Linked DNA regions of Homo sapiens: region 2 is linked to region 1. Evidence: fine-mapped expression QTL. A gene starts in region 1. The other region holds a variant in brackets. All regions are shown on one strand. Distances are between the middles of the regions. Region 1 holds the start of CISD2 (CDGSH iron sulfur domain 2). Region 2 overlaps CENPE (centromere protein E).

Region 1 (9,995 bases):
ATTAGAGGGCCACAGGAATAGCAGAGAGGGCTAGTGGAAGAAGACAAGGCAAGACAACCTGTTGAAAATCCATGGAAATGGTCTGGAAGAAAATAGTTTGAGATAAAACTAAGGTAGTGGCCATTAAAGCAGAGAAGAGAGAACAAATGTGAGCAGTAGTCTCTACTAGGATTCCCTAAACTGCAGAGAACAATGTGTTCGTGCTTGCATTTTCGTTTTCTTTTTTAGCTTAAAACAACAGAAACGTATTCACTCACAGTTCTAGTGGCGAGAAGTCCAAAATCAAGGTGTCAGCATGGTTGATTCTTTCTGGAGGATCTGAGGGAGAAGCTGTGGTGTCCCTTAGCTTGTAGGTCTATCACCCCAATCTCTGCCTCCATCTTCACATGGTGTTCTCCCTTTGTGTGTGCCCAAATTTCCTTTTTAAAATATTTTAATATAATTTCGACTTTTATTTTAGGTTGAGGAGGTAAATGTGCAGGTTTGTCATATGGGTATATTGTGTGATGCTGAGGTTTGGGATATGGCTGATCCTCCCACCTAGGTAGTGAGGATAGTACCCAATAGTCTTCAACCCTTGACCTCCTGCCTCCCTCCCCTTTAGCAGTTCCCAGTGTCTACTGTTGCCATCTTCATGTCCATGAATACACAATGTTTAGCTCCCAGTTGTAAGAATATGTGTTATTTGGTTTTCTGTTTCTGTGTTAATCTCCTTAGGATAATGGTCTCCAGCTGCATCCATATTGCTGCAAAGGATAAGATTTTGTTCATTTTTCTGTTTTGCCAATTTTTTTTTTTTTTTGAAGACAGAGTCTTACTCTGTTGCCCAGGCTGGAGTGCAGTGGCACGATCTCAGCTTACTGTGACCTCTGCCTCCTGGGTTCAAGCGATTCTCCTGCCTTGGCCTCCTGAGTAGCTGAGAATACAAGTGTGCACTACCACACCCGGCTAATTTTTGCATTTTTAGTAGAGACGGGGTTTCACCATGTTGGCCAGGCTAGTTTCGTACTCCCAACCTCAAGTGATCTGCCTGCCTCAGCCTTCCAAAGCGGTGGGATTAAAGGCATGAGCCACACCGTACCTGGCCTGTTTTGCCAATTTTTAAATGTGAGTTGTTCATCTTCTTATTGAGCTCAATACTGAGCAAGGACCTAATATACATATTGACTTTTACATCCCTTTTTTTTTTTTTTTTTTTTTGAGACGGTTTCGCTCTGCTGCCTAGGCTGGAATGTAGTGCCACGACTCAAGCAATTCTCTTGCCTCAGCCTTCCACGTATCCCACTATTAAGATAAATAACAGGACCAAAAAGGAAGAATGAAAGAACCAGCACCATCAGAGAAACAAAATCTAGGCCACTCACAGTGCCTCACACCTATAATTTCAGCACTTTGGGAGGCTGAGGTGAGTGGATAGCTTAAGCTCAGGAGCTCAAGACCAGCCTGGGCAACATGGCAAAACCCCGTCTCTAAAATAAGATACAAAAAAATGAGCCAGGTGTGGTAGCGTGCACCTGTAGTACCAGCTACTCAAGAGGTTGAGGTGGGAGGATGGCTTGAGCTTGTGAAGTCAAGGCTGCAATGAGTGGGTAGAGATCATGCCACCTGCACTCCAGCCTGGGCAACAGAGTGAAACCCTTTCTCACAAAAGAAAACCAAAATCTAGTCAGAAAAGAAAATTTCAAAGCAACTTGAATAGCTGATTTGGTCAGGCTTTGTGTCCCCACTGAAATCTCATCTTGAATTATAATCCCCATAATCTCGTGCCAAGGGAAAGACCAGGTGGAGGTAATTGGATTATGGGTGTGGTATCCCCCATGCTGTTCTGGTGATAGTGAGTGAGTTCTCATGATATCTGATGGTTTTATAAGGGGCTCTTCCTCCTTTGCTCGGCACTACTTCCTGCCATGATGTGAAGAAGGTGCCTTGTTTCCCCTTCGCCTTCCGCCATGATTGTACGTTTCCTAAGGCCTCCCCAGCCATGCTGAACTGTGAGTGGATTAAACCTCTTTCCTTTATAAATTACCCAGTCTTGCGTAGTTCTTTATAGCAGTATGAAAACGGAATAATACGGTAGCTACCAATTTTAGCATAAATTTTCTGAAAGTTTAGACATTGTCAAAATGAAGTATCTTCTTTGGGAAACAAAATTAGGTTTAACCTTTTATTATATATAGTGACACAGGCTAGCTATGACACCTATTCCTTATGACATATAAATACTATTATTAAAACATTTTTTAATAATAGCTAAAAATGACATAAAATGACATAAAAATGACATAGACAAACTCCGATCTTAATGAGGAATTACATTCCACAGAACTAGAACAGAATTTTTCCATTTCAAATTTTCAAACATCTACATATAATATAGCCATATCATCTTATGATACCATAAAAATAATACTGGCAGCTTGGTTGCTAGTTATTTTATAACATATTTTCTCATTTATCATATGTAGCTAAACACAGAAATTATTTCTATTTCTTAACTGTAGAAAAGATAAAATATTTTCAATGCATGAGTTTACTATTACCACTTAAAACCTAAGGTAGGGCTGGGCGCAGTGGCTCACACCTGTAATCCCAGCACTTTGGGCGGCCGAGGCAGACGGATTACCTGAGGTCAGGAGTTCAAGACCAGACTGGCCAACATGGTGAAACTCCGTCTCTACTAAAAATACAAAAAATTAGCCAGGCATGGTGGCACATGCCTGTAGTCCCGGCTACTTAGGAGGCTGAGGCATAAGCATCGCTTGAACCCAGGAGGCAGAGGTTGCAGTGAGCCGACACTGCACTCCAGTGTGGGCAAAAGAGACTCCCTCTCAAAAAACAAAACAAAACAAAAACCTAAGTTAAACATAAATTAGATAATCACAGTAATTTATCTTGAACGCCTCACTCTTGAAAATGTGACATAAACAAAGATAGTTAAGTTGTTTCTGATAGGTGAGAACTGCCTGTATTTAACTAGTATATGGTCATTAAAGATCTCCATGTGGTTTCTAAGAATGCAGAGTCATCATAAGAGAGTCAATAGCTTTAAAAAACAGCTAGATTTAAATAGGGAAGGAAATGTAGGCAATAATAATGTGAACTGTATTGTTTTTTGCTCTAATTTTCATAGAAGAAAATGGAAATATTTTTTGGTCTCCTAGACATTTTAAACAATTGCTAAAAAGTTGTCTTCCAGGTTTTTATTTTAACAAAAGTGTACATTATGGATTCTACAAGTAACTCATTTAAGAAAGCCAAATGTCATTAACTGTTACAATCTATTCAGAATGGGAGACCGAGAGTGGAAAATAGCCACTGAAATTTTTCTTCTATAGTACTCCAAAATAAACCCTGCAATTGTTTTGTCCAATCCAAAAAGGGCTATCTCATGTTTTTCATAAACCAGTTATTACAAGCATGTTCATGTTTCCTAAATAAACCAGCAATAAAATGAGAACTATTAACTATAGCCACACTGTAATGGGACTTAAGTTAAATGTATGTTATTAAAATACTTCTCAGAATGGTCATTATTTCTGAGAATCAGTCTTCATATTAAATATTTAACAACTTTTAAGAGGAAGTTACTATATATTCTTAAGAGAGAAAAGGTTTTGGTTGAGTTTTCTTAATGTCTTTAATAGGAATTAAATATTTGTTGACACTAGGGATCCTCAAGAAAAGAAAGCATACTTCTAAAATCTAGCCATTAAATCTAGTTTCATACTTTCTAATTTTCTTCAATTATACTTGATTTACAGAGAATCGAAACTAATACAAATGCAGCCACCATCTGGAAAAAACATAGGTAATTCATTGGACATTTTCCTTTCTTGACTGTTAAAAATTCCTCAACAGTTAACTTATGCAAATTAGTAAGAAGGTACAAATGTCAAAATGACAAAAGGGTACAAAAGTCACAATATGATCATACCGTTTTGGCCTGGTATTGCTATTTAAGTGAAGACATCCAAAAGGGAGAAATATGACAACTGGTATTTGCTTACTTGCCAATGAACTATTACATAATGAATTTTAAAAAATAGAAACATTTCTAATTTCCAGTTGTAAGGGAATGAATGGTTAGGCCCATTGTGATGTTAAAACTAAAATAAGTATTTAGTTGTTAGGGAAAAAATGAGGATTATATTAAAATATGTAAAGTACTTAAGTAAAAGAAGTGGGGAAAGCCAAAATTTTATGGAATTGCTGCAATTCTGTCAGAGTAAACTGGTAGGATCAAAAGATCTGATGTTTATAAACACTTGATGTGAAACGTTTTTCATTTTATTTTACTTTTGCATTGCTTCTGATGTTTAATGTTCCTTTTTAATGTTTATTATTGTTACCATGCTTTCTATTCAATTGCATGTTTTCTACTAAAACTCTTAATATTTAAAAAATATTAAAATCTCACAATCCACTCAACAGAGCGTCTGTCTGACCATAATTCAATGAATCTCTAGATTTGGAAGAGAATTTGTCATCTAGTTTATCCCTTCTAAATCTATCGACCACCCACCACCAGAGTCTTTTTGTTTGTTTTTTTCATCTTTGAGAGGGGCTATCACTGAAGCACCACATTTGTTTGGGGAAAGCATTCTTTAATTTAAAAAAAAATCTTCCTTAGACTGAAATTCACCTCCCAATAACCTTCACTAATTTGGTTAATTTGTTATCAGTTCTATATTTTAGTCTACACAAATCTTATTTTTCTTCTACCAGACAGCTGTGCGATTGCTGTATTTTAGGTCAGGTACTACAGATCTTTAGAACGTTCCCGGCGAAGCAACCCTATTTACCTCAGAATTATCTTAATTCATGTTTGCACTCCCTGATAACCTAGGACATAGGAGTTCAATACTTGCTGATTCCTTCACCATCCTACTCGGTCTGAGTTCCGTTTAGAAATATCCCCCTTACAATGAAATGCTCATAACTCAACACAATCTCCCAAGTGTTGACTGCATTCTGGAGATTTTCATCCTTTAGATGTGAAATCCTCATGAGTTGTGTGGGTTAAGTGAGGGTCCTTAAGTATAGAACGTTACATATATTCACTAAATTTCATTTTCTAAGATTTCACTCCTCATACCGGCCTTCGAATACTTTCTTGGGTAAGGTATCTTTCTTCCAACTTAAGTTACCGCAGCGGGCCCCGGGACCGTAGAAACGGAGATGACCTCAAATGCCACCTATGATAGGTCAATTCTAACCTGAGGGAATGGAGGTTATCTCCTAATTTCGTTACTAAATAAAACGGTCATATACGTGTTACGTGTAAGTCTATATTTCTCTCCCACACACTCCCACCCACATGCTGAGGGTACAACCCAGCCGGTAGCTGGGGCTGCCTGTTACATGAGGCCTTAGATAACGACGACTTAGCCCGCTTTAAAATAAACAAGTACGCTACAGAGAGCGATGAGCAGGACAGGAGATGAAAGAGACTGGCCTGTTCCCAACTCAGCACCTTCTCTGCAAAAACCTGGTATCTTGCCACGGAATGACACCGGAGACAACTCCGAGGACAAAAGACCCTGGGGCATCAAGCACCCGGAGACTGCCTCACAGGCGTTCCCCAGGCAGCTGCGTCGGCGCGCGCCCACCTTCCTCTGCGCGCGGGGATCACGTGCCAGGCGCCGAGCTCCGTCCCGCCCCTTGGCCCTAGGATTTTTACGCCTCCTTCCCCCGCTTGGCGAACGTGCAAGGATGGGGACTGGCTGATGGGGGAGGATTACCTGTGAGCCTAGCGAACCCGGTAATGCTTTCAGGGACTGGGAGCCGCTTCAGATATGCAGGGAGCTGCACCTTCACGATACGGGCCACGCTCTCCAGCACCATCCTGGCCAGCGGCGTCCACTCCTCTCCCGAGCCCCCTCCGCTCTGGCCAAGCTGCCGCGCCTGCGCCGGGAGCGGAAGCGGCCGGCGGGCACTGGCGGCCTCGGCCTGGGCGGCGGGCGGGGCGGCGGGCCCTGGGAGGAGAGGTGACCTGCCGGGCGCCGATTGGCGGCGGGCGAGTGACGTACGCTCGCGGCGGACTGCCGAGGCGCGGGAACTGGCGGGTAGCGAGGCCCTCCTCGGAATCTCGTGTGAAGGTGGCCCTCCTCTTGGGCCTTTAACGTCTGTAGATGCTGGAGACCAGCAGAAAGGATACTGTGTGCGATGAGATAAGCATGTGAGAATGCTTTCTAACCGAAAGTGCCTTTCAAAAGTGAGTCTCTTGCTGTCTCTACTTCGTCCCCTCTCGCCCCGCCTCTTCCCCTACAGTTTGGGTGCTGTGGCCCTAGGGTTGCATACTCGCCCATGAGTATCCTCCCCCTACCCAGACCCCAGTGCCTAATTTTACTCCTTCACCCAAAGGCCAGGCTTAAAAAAATAAAAATTAAAATATTTTAACTAAACCAGGAACTGTTTACATCTCTGCCCCTTGGCAACTTAACTGCAGCCCTAGCTCCAAAAACCTCTGGTTTTTGCCACTCAGAGAAGATTCGTAGTAGTCCTTCCTTAGATATTTTCAGTTCCTTTTCCTTCGGGAAAGTGGTAAAAGAATCCAAAGCTGGCCGGGCGCGGTGGCTCACGTCTGTAATCCCAGCACTTAGGGAGGCCGAGGCGGGTGGATCACGAGGTCAGGAGTTCGAGGCCAGCCAGGTCAAGATGGTGAAACCCCGTCTCTACTAAAAATAGAAAAATTAGCCGGGCGCGGTGGCAGGTGCCTGTCCCAGCTACTCGGGAGACTGAGGCAGGAGAATCGCTTGAACCAGGGAGGCGGAGGTTGCAGTGAGCCGAGAATGTGCCACTGCACTCTAGCCTGGGAGACAGAGCAAGACTCCGTCACAAAAAAAAAAAAAAAAAAGAATCTAAAGCCTTATGTATGGTTTTCTTTATGTTACAAGGCTTCTGCTGAAGTCTAGCGCAGGGGGTCCTTATGGCTTCCCTAGGCCACACTGGAAGAAGAATTGTCTTGGGCCACACATAAATACACTAACACTAATGGTAGCTAATGAGCTAAAAAAAAATTTTTTTTCATAAAGTTTTAAGAAAGTTTACAGATTTGCATTGAGTGGCATTCAAAGCCATCCTGTTGGGCAAGCTTGATCTTGAAGGTTTTAATTTTGTTGTTGTTGTTGTTGTTACAAGGTTTCGCTCTATCGCCCAGGCTGTAGTGCAGTGGTCAGATCATAGCTCACCGCAGACTCTAACTCCGGCTTAAGGGATCCTTCTGCCTCAGCCTTCCAAGTAGCTGGGTTTACAGGCGTGTGCTGCCACACCCAACGAATTTTAAAAATTTTTGTGTGTATGTAGATGGAGTCCCATTATATCGCCCAGGCTGGATAGTTGTTTTTATTAATATCTCTAAAAGATTTGAAGGGTAAGAGGAGAAAATTTCACTCCCTTGAAATAACTTTCTTGCTATGACTTTGTTTCATATTTTGGCTGAAGTCAAAATGTCCGAAGTTGTGCACTTGCTGATTGGATAATGTGTGTGATATCTTAATAATATGCCTCATTATTTACAGTTCTACACTTAACAACATATAATAACGAACTGCTAATGGTCCAGTATTTCATTGTGTATGACAGTGTAACAGCCAGTTATAATAAATACTTTCCATTTTTCCCCTTGGTATTTTTATTTTACAGTGAGAAAAGGAAGGAATTTTTTAAAGCAATCTTTCATTCTCTGGACTGTATAAATTTAGTGTTTGTGATTGTCCTTCACTAAAAAAGAATATCAGTAATAGAGTTGACCAAAATCTAGATTAAATAATTTTCTATCATTATAATTGTTCAAAATTGTTAAAGTAAAACTTACAATGGAAATTCTACAAACACGTTTAGATACAGGTTCATGTTTTTGAGCTAGGGCAGTATAGAAGATGGTGTATACAAAGTGATGTTTAAAAGGTTGATGGGATTTCCTTTAGAGAGAGTTTGGAGGTAAACCCTGGAGCTTTTTTATCCTGAAGATGATGGAACTTGAATATCCTTGTCCTCTGGACTATTCTGTTAACTGTTATCTTTAATCTCTGTGGATCTAATGTAGAAGCACCCTTGGGTACAACTAGATACCCTAGTTGAGGTAGGGGTAGGTTGGAAGTGGGGTACATTAGGAAAAGAAAATCTGGAAAAGGCCATTACCTATTCGTTTCTTCTCTTAGAGGATCTGTCATCTTGACAAGGGCAAGACGTGCTGTGTTGAGTTTAATTTTTCCCCTTGGTATTTTAAAGTGAGAAAAGGAAAGAATTTTTTTAAAGCAACTTTACATTCTCTGGACTGTATAAATTTAATGTTTGTGATTGTTGTGCATTAAGAATAAGACCTCCAAGCAGTTTTTCTTTAAAGAATTAAAAAATACATACCTCAATTTAAAGATATAGTAAAATGCTCAAATGCCAAATGTACAGTTCCAGGTAACCACCACCCACATCAATATACAGAATGTTCAATAGAGGCGTTTTTAAAAAGCGACCCTTCCAACCACATCCACCACCATTACTACTATTCTGTATTGCTGTGCATGTTTTTGACCCTCACATATAAGTAATTTTACAGTATGTAATTTTTTATGGTTGGCTTACTTCCTCTTAGCAGTTTATGTGAATAGCTGGTTTGCTATTTTCAAGTAGAAAAAATGTAGTGAATGCAAGTCTATATGGATAAAACTTTTTTGGGAGGCCTTGAAATTCAGAGAAAAGGTGTGGATCATATATTAGGTATTCTGATGCATTACATGAGCTATGCGAATGTGTAATAGGAGATAATTCCTAACTCCACCAATTTAAAAATCCTTATTATCCACTTAAAAGGAATATTTTCTTAAATTCCCTTTACTTAAAATTTAAATCCTGTTTTCATTTATATTTGTATTTCATTTCCACAACCCTGCCTTCTTGGCTGCACATGAAACATGGTCTAAAGATAATATTGCTCTAAATAGATGTAATAGGCTTATCTGACCACCTTATGCGATAGTGTTTTTAGACTCCATCTTTAAAAGACATAAAGAAACTGTGGTCAGAAAACTCAAGATAAATATGTAAATACAGTTAAAGGAGTCATTATTTACTTTCAAGCACTTGAGCTTGGATCACTCATCTTCTGCCTGTCCTAGCTAGGCCCAAGACTTTTATTTCTTTCATGTTTTTTTCCCATTAGGTCATCCAGTGCCCCAAATTCAAATATGATCGTTAAGATATAGCCCAAATCTCTATTTCCAGCCCAGATTTCTTTAGGCTAATCTTAATTCTAGGAGTCTAATTCCAAATGCCTACTAGTCTGCTCTTGACATCTTTGCCCACTGTGCTATTGGTTTGTTCATCAGTTTCACTGGTACATGTTTTCTGGAAAATATTACCTTGTTGGTTACATTGGTTGCTTATCTTTTCCTGTTGCTTATCTTCTCCTAGTGTATGTCTTTTTTTTTTTTTTTTTTGGTTGAGACAGAGTCTCTGTTGCCCAGGCTGGAGTGCAATGGCGCGATCTCAGCTCACTACAACCTCTGCCTCCCAGGTTCAAGTGATCCTCCTGCCTCAGCCTTCCATGTAGCTGGGACTACAGGCGCCCGCCACCACTCCCGGCTAATTTTTGTATTTTTAGTAGAGACGAGGTTTCACCATATTTGCCAGGCTGGTCTTGAACTCCTGACCTCATGATCCACCTGCCTCTGCCTCCCAAAGTGCTGGGATTACAGGCGTGAGCCACCGTGCCTGGCCGTGTATGTCTGTTTTTATACTGAAATTTGGTTTGGGTGTAGTCAAATTTATTCATCTTTTTCTTTACAATTTGTGTTCTGGGAGTCTTGTTTAAGAAATCTTTTTCTACCCCTAAATCACAAAGGTATTCACCTGTGTTTTTGCTAAAAGTTTTAAACTTATATTCTTCATATTAGGGCTTTACTCAACCCAGTACTTACTTTTTGTGCATGAGAAAGGGATCTACTCTCATTTGTTATTATTTTACATACAGACAACTATGTTCTAGCACCATTTAT
Region 2 (9,995 bases), 300 kb before region 1:
TTTATCATGAAGAGGTATTGAACTCTGTCATGATTTTTCTGCATCTGTTGAAGTGATTGTATGACTTTTTTTCATTGTTTTGTTAATGCGGTATGTCATGTTTATTGATTTGTTTATGATGAACCATTCTTATATTCCTGGGATAAATCCCACTTGTTCATGGTGAATTATCTTTTAAATGTGCTGTTAAATTCAGTTTTATAGTATTTTGTTCAGGGTTTTTCTGTCTGTTCTTCAGGGATATTGGCCTATAGTTTTCCTTTTTTGTCTATTTTTGGTATCAGTGTAATGCTGGCCTTGTAGAATAAGTTAGGAAAAATTCCTTCCTCTTCAATTTTTTGGAATACTTTGAGAAGAATTGCTATTAGTTCTTCTGTAACTGTTGGTAGAATTCAGCAGTGATGCCATCAGGTCCTGGGCCTTTCTTTGATAGGAGACTTTTTATTACTGATTCAAGTCTCCTTTCTCATTACTGGCCTGTTCAGGTTTTCTATTTATTCATAATTCAGTCCTGGTAGGTAATGTGGTAGAGGAATTCATTTCTTCTAGGTTTTTCAATTTATTGGCATATAATTGTTCTTTGTATTTCTGTGGTATCAATTGTAATGTCTCCTTTTTTATTTCTGATTTTATTTATTTGAGTCGACTGTCTTTTTTACCTAGTCTAGCTAAAGGTTTGTTGATTTTGTTTCTTTCAAAAAAAAAAAACTCTTTATTTTGTGGATTTTTTTAAAGTCCCTATTTTGTTTATTTCTGCTCTGATCTTTATTCTTTCCATTTGCTAATTTGGGGTTTAGTTTGTTCTTGTTTTTCTAATTCTTCGAGGTAATAGTTTAGGTAGTTTGATTTCTTTCCTCTTTTTTGATGTAGATGTTTATTACTATAAACTTCTCTTTTAGAACTGCTTTTGCTGCATCCTATACATTTTGGTATATTGTGTTTCCATTTTCATTTGTCTTAGCTTTTTAAAATTACTCTTTTAATTCATTAACCCAGTGGTTGTTCAGGAGCGTGTTTAATTTTTATGTATTTGTAATATTTCCAGAATTTCTGCTATTATTAATTTCTAGTTTTATGTCATTGTGGTCAGAAAAGATACTTGATATAATTTTGATTTTAAATTTTTTAAGACTGTTTTTGTGGCCTAATATGATCTGTCTTAGAGAATGTTCCATGTGCAGTTGATAAGAATGTGTTTTCTGCAGCTGTTGAATGGAATGTTCTGTAAACATCTGTTAGGTCTCTTTGGTCTAGACTGCAGTTTAAATCTGCTATTTCTTTGTTGATTTTCTGTCTGAATAATCTGTCCATTGCTGAAAGTGTAGTTTCAAAATCCTCTATTATTATTGTGTTGCAGTCTCTCTTCCTTCAGATTAATATTTGCTTTATATATATTCTGCCATGTTCAGTGTGCATATATATTTACAATTGTTACAACCTCTTGCTGAGTTGACCCCTTTATCATTATGTAATGACCTTGTCTCTTTTCACAGTTTTTGATGTAAAGTCTATTTTAGCTGATATAAGTATAGCTTCTCCTGCTCTCTTACAATTTCAGTTTGCATGGAATATCTTTTTCCACCCCTTCCTTTCCATCTATTTGTATCCTTACAGGTGAAGTTAATCTCTTTCAGGCAGCATATATTTGGATTTTTTAATCCATTCAACCACTCTATCTTATAATTGGAGAATCAGTCCATTTACATTGATAGGTAGGAACTACTGATAGGTAGGAAATTACTACTTCCATTTTGCTAATTATTTTCTTATTTGTTTTTTAGGTCCTTTTATCTTATCTCACTGTCTTCCTTATTGGATAAATTATTTTCTCTGATAGTATGTTTTGATACCTTTCTATTTTTAGTGTATTTATTATAGGTTTTTTTCCTTCGTGGTTACCATCAGGCTTACAAGAAAAAGTCTTACAGTTATGCAGGTTATTTTAAACTGATAACAGATTATCATTGATTACTAAACAAACAAACAAACTCCACACTTTATCTCCTCCCACTTTCTGAATATTTGATTTTCTAACTTTTGATGTTACAACTGTTTTCCTTCAGTACTTTTACTATATCATTGCACTCCCTCCTGGCCTGTGAGATTCCTCTTTGTTGTTGTTGTTGTTGTTTAATTATACTTTAAGTTCTGGGGTACATGTGCATAACATACAGATTTGTTACATAGGTATACATGTGCCATGTTGGTGTGCTGCACCCATTAACTCGTCATTTAACATTAGGTATTTCTCCTAATGCCATCCCTCCCCTAGGCCCCCAATCCCCAACAGGCCCCAGTGTGTGATGTTCCCCTCCCTGTGTCCATGAGTTCTCATTGTTCAACTCCCACTTATAAGTGAGAACATGTGGTGTTTGGTTTTCTGTTCTTGTGTTAGTTTGCTGAGAATGATGGTTTCTAGCTTCATCCATGTCCCTGCAAAGGACATGAACTCATCCTTTTTTATGGCTGCGTAGTATTCCATGGTGTATATGTGCCACATTTCCTTTATCCAGTCTATCATTGAGGGGCATTTGGGTTGGTTCCAAGTCTTTGCTGTTGTAAACAATGCTGCAATAAGTATACGTGTGCATGTGTCTTTATAGTAGAATGATTTATAATCCTTTGGGTATATACTCAGTAATGGGCTTGCTGAGTCAAATGTTATTTCTAGTTCTAGATCCTTGAGGAATTGCCACACTGTCTTCCACAATGTTGAACTAATTTACACTCCTACCAACAGTGTAAAAGCATTCCTATTTCTCCACATCCTCTCCAGCATCTGTTTCCTGACTTTTTAATGATCCTGGCCTGTGAGATTTCTGCTTAGAAGTCTACTGCTAACCATAATGGAACTCCCTTCTATGTTATTTGCCTCTTTACTCTTGCTGCTTTGCTGCTTTTAGGATTTTCTCCTTGTCTTTGACTTTTGAGTTTGAATATAATATATCTTAGGGCAGGGTCATTTAGATTGAATTTGATTGGTAACCTTTGACCTTCCTATATGTGGATATGTATTGCTTTCTTCAGGTTTGGGAATTTTCTGCTATTATTTCTTTAAATAAGCTTTCTGTCCCTTTATTTTTCTCTACTTGAACTGCAGTGACCCAAATATTTGCTTTTTTGATGTTGTCCCATAAACTTCATTCCTTTTCATCCTTTTTTTTTTTTGCCTCCTGACTCTATATTTTAAAATAGCCTGTCTCAAGCTCACAAATTCTTCTGCATGATCCATTCTTCTATTGATGTTCTTTGTTGCATTTTTCATTTTGTTCATTGTATTTTCTTGCTCTAGGATTTCTGTTTGGTTTTTTTATTATTTCAGTCTCCTTGATAAATTTCTGGATTGTTTCTCTATGTTTTCTTGAGGTTTGCTGAGCTCGCTTAAAATAGCTATTTTGAATTCTTTGGCAGATAATACATCTCCATCTTTTAGGATCAGTCACCAGTATCTTACTTTGTGCTTTTGGTGACATCATGTTTCCCTGATCATGATGCTTGTGGTCATGCAGCAGTGTCTGCACATTGAAGATGAATGTAGCTATTTGTTTTAGTCTTCACCATCTTTATAAGGTCTTTTCAAGATCTATAGTATGACTGAGGTCACCATGTTATCCTGCAGAGGCACTACTGGACACCTTTCTCTTTAGGTCCCCAGGTGGGCAGAGCTGTTCTTATTCCACAGATGAGAGGGGTCAGTATCAAGATCCAGGGCCATTTGAGAATCTGCTGATGGACAAGGGTTGCAAAACCTGCCACAGGGACTTGGATACGCCTGTCTCCCGGTAGGACCCCGGCTGGGTAAAACCATTCTCAGACTATCGCTAGGAGAAACTGAAACCAAGCTTCAGAGTTAATTCAGAATGTGCTATGGAACCAATGTTGGTAAGCTTAACCTGGTGGCACCAGCAGTCAAGACTCCCAGCAGTTCCTTATGCAGGGAGGATTGCTTGCATTCTGTAGCTGTGACATTCAAGGTTCTTTCCAGAACTGCTATGTGATGGAAGCCAGCAGGCCTGTCCTACACAGGCAGGATAACTGCCAGGCTGCAGTAGAGAGGGGCTGCAGTCAAGACAAGACTGCTTTAGGATCTATTATGGGAAAGATGCATGAAACCTGTCCTGGTGGCTGGGGCAGGTGCTTCACCCAGCAGTTCCCAATACAGTCGAGATAGCTTCCTGACTGCAGCAAAGAGGCATTGAAGCTGAGACAGGGCCCCTTCAGTCTATTGTGGGATGGAGGACTGCAAGCCTGACCCAGTGGCTCAGACAGGTTCATCTCTTGGCAGTTCTCTGTGTGGGTGAGAGCAGGGAGGCTGCAGCAGGGGAGGGCTGGAGCCAGTACATGTCCCCGTCGGAATCTGCTATGAGACAGAGGCCGGCAAGCCTGTCCTGGTGGCTCAGATGGGCATGTTCCCTTCTGGGTCCTTGTGCAAGCAGTACTAAGCTAGGACTACAGCTTGAGGAGGGCAGGAGCCAAGTTATAGGCTAACTTTTGGGTCCACTGCCAAGACCAATGTCGACAGGCAGAAGAGCCCATCTGCCGAGACCCTAGAGTGTGTGATTTCTCCTGGACCCCTTGACAGATAGTTTTGGTTGCAGACTCTAGGCCAAACAGGGCTGTAGCTAAGTCCTTCAAGGAATGGGACCATTTCTGCATATGAACCTGGGAGCACAATTGGCAGGACTCCCACCTGGGTGT[T/C]GGTATGCACTCTCAAAAACAACACTTCCAGGTCTTGAGTTCTACTGGGGTTTTACAACCTCCTACCTGAATCCAAAGGCTCCCACAAAAAGACTTGTCTGTAATAGGTACAGAATTCTTGTTGTTTTGGGGGGATGTGAGCAGGTGACCTCCTATTCTGTCATCTTCTTGACATCACTCAGAAGTATTGTCTTAAAGATTTTTTTTTCTAAGATTGAGATGTTGAAGATCTAACCATTTTTCATATGTATATACAATTTAGAAAATTTAAGAAATATTTTCTTCATTTATATTTTAAAAATAGTTAAATCATGTTTCTTTCCCTGGTGCTTATGCAAGAGAAAAAGGAATTAAAAGCATCTATGGGAAGGGTTGGTGTATCTACCTCTTGATGGATTTGTCTTGAAATTGTTTCCTTATAGTTTGTATATTACATTTTATTGAGCATATATAAATGCTACCTAGAGCACAGCAGTTTCCTACTGAGATCAGTATGAATTTTAATATCTAGATGACTATTTTATATATGGATGCTACATATTAATGGATTTCTTTTTCTTTAGAAAGTATGTTTCTAAATAATTAAAACATTAGAATAGCTGGAGAAGCTAATTTTGTACGTTTTGTTTTTCCTTCTCCATCTAAGAGAGTTATGTGAAAATTAGTATAACTAATACTAAATAGTTATAATGGAATTTATAGAAACAGATCACTCATTTTCTAAGTATAAAATATTAGGCTACACGTTAAGAGAACTTAATCCAGAAACCATCAGACTTTAGGGACTCAGAAATTGTCCAAAAGATTAAAGGGAGTTATTAGTGTAAAGTGTCCTTAACCTAGAGGCCACAGATGCTGTGAAATTATTTTGCAGAATTTTTCAATGCATATTCATTTTTCTGGAACAAGAATCTGTAGTTGTTATCAGACTTGCAAAGTGATTCGTGAACATCCCCCCTTCAAAAAAAAATAAGACCCAGTGTTTTATGTAGTTAAAAGATGAATTAATTTGCAGCTACTCTTCAGACTTCTATGTGGCTAGCCCAAAAGGCCATGACCCTTTTTCCTCGATATCATTGTTCAGTTTCTCAACCTCTTTTCATTTTTAAAGGAAAAAAGAATTCTATGCCAAAGCTATTATTTCCATTCTACCTACAAATTAAAATTATTGCTTTATTTCATAGGTACTATATTCAAAGAGGTAAAAGTCTATAAGTTCTCCACAGGGTTTCATTTAGCTTGTTTTAAAATGCATGTTAATGAAGTGCAAAATGTCATGCATGACAAAACCATTGGACTTTAATCAATAAAACTAGGTTTTATGGAAGGGACTGGCCTAGTGTCATGATTAAGAACATGGTCTCTAGAGTGAAATTGCCTGGATTTAAGCCGCAGTTTTGCCACTTATAAACTTACCGCAGATCCAATCCTATTATGAATTGTTGCCAAGGCCTTGGGCAAGTCACTGAATCTCAGGGCTTCCTGTATTTCTCCACCCTTGAAGTAGAGACCAGATGCTCACCAAGGTCCCTTCTGACTTTAAAATTTCATCTAATTTTTGTATGTTTTTTATATGTGATAATAACATGACATAAAACTAACGTTTGGGATAAGTGGTAATAATTTCTCTAATATTTTTCTCACATCATTAATATATTAATAAGAAAAATTGAAGCTTATTGAATTGAGTCAACACAGAGAAAGATTACAAAAATACCACAGAATATATGACATGTATCACACTGCAGTTTTTCTCCCATTTTAACCACAGTTGAGGAGGAAGAATCCTACTCCGTTCTTTTTAAATTTCTTTTTCTTTTTTTTCTTTTTTTTTTTTTTAAAACACAAAGCTCAGCTTTCTAATCTAAAAGACATATAATTAAAAAACTTTTTCTTTATAGAGACGGGGGTCTTGCCATGTTGGCCAGGCTAGTCTCACATTCCTGGGCTCAAGTGATCTGCTCGCCTCGGCCTCCCAAAGTGCTAGGATTACAGGTGTGAGCCACTGCTCTAGGCCCTTTACTTTTAATTCGACACAAAATTTAAGGTTACTTAAAAGATTATGTAATAAAAACATCCTGTTCAAAACCAGTTTTGCAGTATCTAGTCCATGTTAAACTAAAAATATAAGTCTATGTGTATGTAGCAAAATATGTTCCAAAACCTACATTTTGGGGAAAGGTTTAGCTAAAAGGGAATAAAAGTCAAATTGGCCTTAGGACATGGAGCCATTTCCCTGGTTTTCCTAAAGCTTTTGTCAAAAATCACCCAAGTTGTAGATAATTTTCTAGTGGGAATATAGTAACATGAGATGCTTAAATAGTATGTTTTAGAGGGAGAATGGAAAATGTCAAGTATCACCATACTCGAGGAATGAGAAAAATCTTTACCGTCTACCTATTTTAACTTGGTGTATTTAATTTTATAATTTTTACTACTTGGAGATGTAAGTTAAATATTTCATTTCACCTAATGACAATTACCATTTAAATCTGCAATTTAAATGGTAGCAATGGATTAACTGTAGATCAGATCATATGTTTAAATCATTTTTCCTTTTCACACACTTTCACTTCATGCTCTGCATCTTAAACATGTCATTGGGAGATTACACTTTTATTTTTATAAAAGCTAATTATTTTCTATGCATAAGAACCAGTACTAAGATAAAGTGCTATTTCAAATAAGAAGTAGGAAAATTTTCTTTTCTAAATTAGTATTCTTTAAATGTTTTCATTATCTATGGCCATACTACCCTGAATGCACCCGATCTCTTCTAAGTATTTTTAAAAGTTAAGATTGATTTTTGATTCTTTCTTATTGGTAAATGTGATTTTCTTTCACAGAAGTTAAAAATAAGGAAGAAAAGGTGAAAGAAGGAGCCAATTTAAATTAAAAGCAGTACAAATGTCTAAGACTGTGTTCTACAGTGGGGTAGCCACTAACCATATGTGGCAATTAAGCACTTGAAATGGGACCAGACTGAATTGACATAGTATATAAAAAAGAATGTAAAATTGTTCATTTTTTTTATATTGATTACCTAAAGAAACATGTTGGATAGATTACCTGAAGAAACATTTTGGAAGAAATATTTTTGATATATTAGGTTGAATAAAATATGTTCTCAAAGTTAATTCTGCCTTTTTCTTTTTAGGTTTAATGTGCCTACTAGGAAATTTTAAATTACATATGTGTCTGACATTATGTTTCTCTTGGATAGCACTGACCTAAAATAGTAATGTCAACACTTGCACTAGTCTGAAATTTAAAACTAGTCAGGACTCAGTTAAACATCCAGAAAATATTTAAATAAGATACTATTTTCAAGCCCCTTACATACTATTAGAATTTGCTTTTACTCTGTAAGTGCTCATCTGATTATGAAGATTAAATAATTCTAAGGGAAAATGTTTATCTTGGTTATGTGTGGTTTACTTGTTTTCAACAAACTTTTTGGTACTCAGATATTTAATGCTACAGATATTTTGGTAGAAAGGACACCTCAATAGAAATACTTCTACCTTTATACTTTTACATGGTTGAACAATATAATGGAGTGCAATATTTCCTCTGGAATAAATCAAGGTCATAGTTGATCATTCCATACCTGTGTAGCACTGGTGAAAAGTAATAATATTGTAAAGGCACTGCATGAAACAACCCTAATCCAAACCTAGATTCCAAATCAGAACTTATTAAAAAGTACACTAATGTAGAGCTGATGGATACTTTATGGGAAGAAAAAACTTTATAAGAATTAATACATTTCTGTACTTAACTGACTGAAAACAAAAATCTACTAAACGTGTATTTTTCAAGGTTTGATTACCACTTTTTAAATCTCTCCTCCAAGTAGTGCATACTAATTTGCTATTGACATTATTGTAGCTTTATTAACAGATGATATAGCTACTTGGTGGGGTCATGCTGAGGGGTTTTTTTTTATTTGTTTGATATGTTTTGGGTGATATTTCTAGTATTTTTAAATAATGAGGTGCTTTGTTGCGATAGCTTGAACAATTGATCTCAGTCCTTTCTAACTGTTGGGTGATTCTGAAGCAGTGAACCAGTGCCCTTTTTTTTCTTTTTCTTTTTTTTTTTTTTTTTGCTTTGCTTTATTAACTATTGGTTTGCTCTGTTACCTGTTCACATGCTCTTACAGATGCAACTAATTCATGAAATTTCGAACTTAAAGAATTTAGTTAAGCATGCAGAAGTATATAATCAAGATCTTGAGGTGAGCATTCATGTTGGTATTTCTATTGATAAGCAATTAGAACTATAAAACATGCAACATATGTAACTGAACATGATGTCAGAAATAAGGGAATTATGTTTTTAAAATATTAGTGACTTTGAATTTTACTATGAATTTAAACTAATATATATAAGTTCTGTTTTAATCCCTTAGACTTCAAATCAGATTCTAAATTGTTACTCTCTCCTTTGATTCTTTTAGAATGAACTCAGTTCAAAAGTAGAGCTGCTTAGAGAAAAGGAAGACCAGATTAAGAAGCTACAGGAATACATAGACTCTCAAAAGCTAGAAAATATAAAAATGGACTTGTCATACTCATTGGTAAAAATCAGGCGTATTTTGTTGTGTAATCACATAAATATATATAGCATACCATCATCTTAGCAAATGCTTATACTGGACCTACTTTGTGCTGTGTATTGTTGTAATAAATTTATATATATTTCATTAAATCTGTCAATAACCCTATGAGATAGGGACTGTTAGTATATTTGCCATTTTAGAGATAAAGTCACATTTGTGGAAAGTTGATCATGTCATCCTTTGAGTAAATATAAGGAAGTTAAGGACAGGCTCCCATTAAAAATCAGTAAGTTTTAGGCCAGGGCACAGTGGCTCATCCCTGTGATGCCAGTACTTTGGGAGGCCGAAGTGGGAGATCACTTGAGCCCAGGAGTTCAAGACCAGCCTGGGCAACATAGTGAGACCTGGTCTGTACAAAATATACAAAAATAAGCCTGGCAGGTACTGCCAGCTACTTGGGTAACTGAGGTGGCAGGATTGCTTGAGCCTGGGAGGTTGAGGCTGCCATGAGCCGAGATCATGCCATTGCACTCCAGCCTGGGCAACAGAGCAAGACTCTGTCTCCAAAAAAAAAAAAAAATCAGTAAAATTTTAAAATTCCGAATTTTTTTCAGTAGTTTTATACAAATGCATGCAGTAGTATATAGTCAAGATCTTAAATATTAAACTGGGATATTTTTTCACAATTTTATAGCTCTAGATGATTTTAGTTGATATAAGATCTTGGCATTAA

Evidence for each region.
Region 2: its variant is fine-mapped to the expression of CISD2 in whole blood (TOPMed, PIP 0.96).

Annotation. Positions count from the first base shown.
Region 1 is chr4:102,864,934-102,874,928 of GRCh38, reverse strand. CISD2 (CDGSH iron sulfur domain 2) reads right to left here and starts at 5,937. Exons shown (of 3, transcript NM_001008388.5): 1 at 5,742-5,937. The coding sequence starts at 5,844. It also overlaps a transcript of UBE2D3 not described here. RefSeq lists silencers at 5,677-5,796, 5,827-6,116 and an enhancer at 6,347-6,486.
Region 2 is chr4:103,162,422-103,172,416 of GRCh38, reverse strand. It overlaps CENPE (centromere protein E), which reads left to right. Exons shown (of 49, transcript NM_001813.3): 17 at 8,864-8,938; 18 at 9,161-9,280. Among named protein-coding and RNA genes, the nearest start is that of CENPE, 31 kb to the left of the region's middle. The variant T/C (reference allele first, on the strand shown) is at 4,699.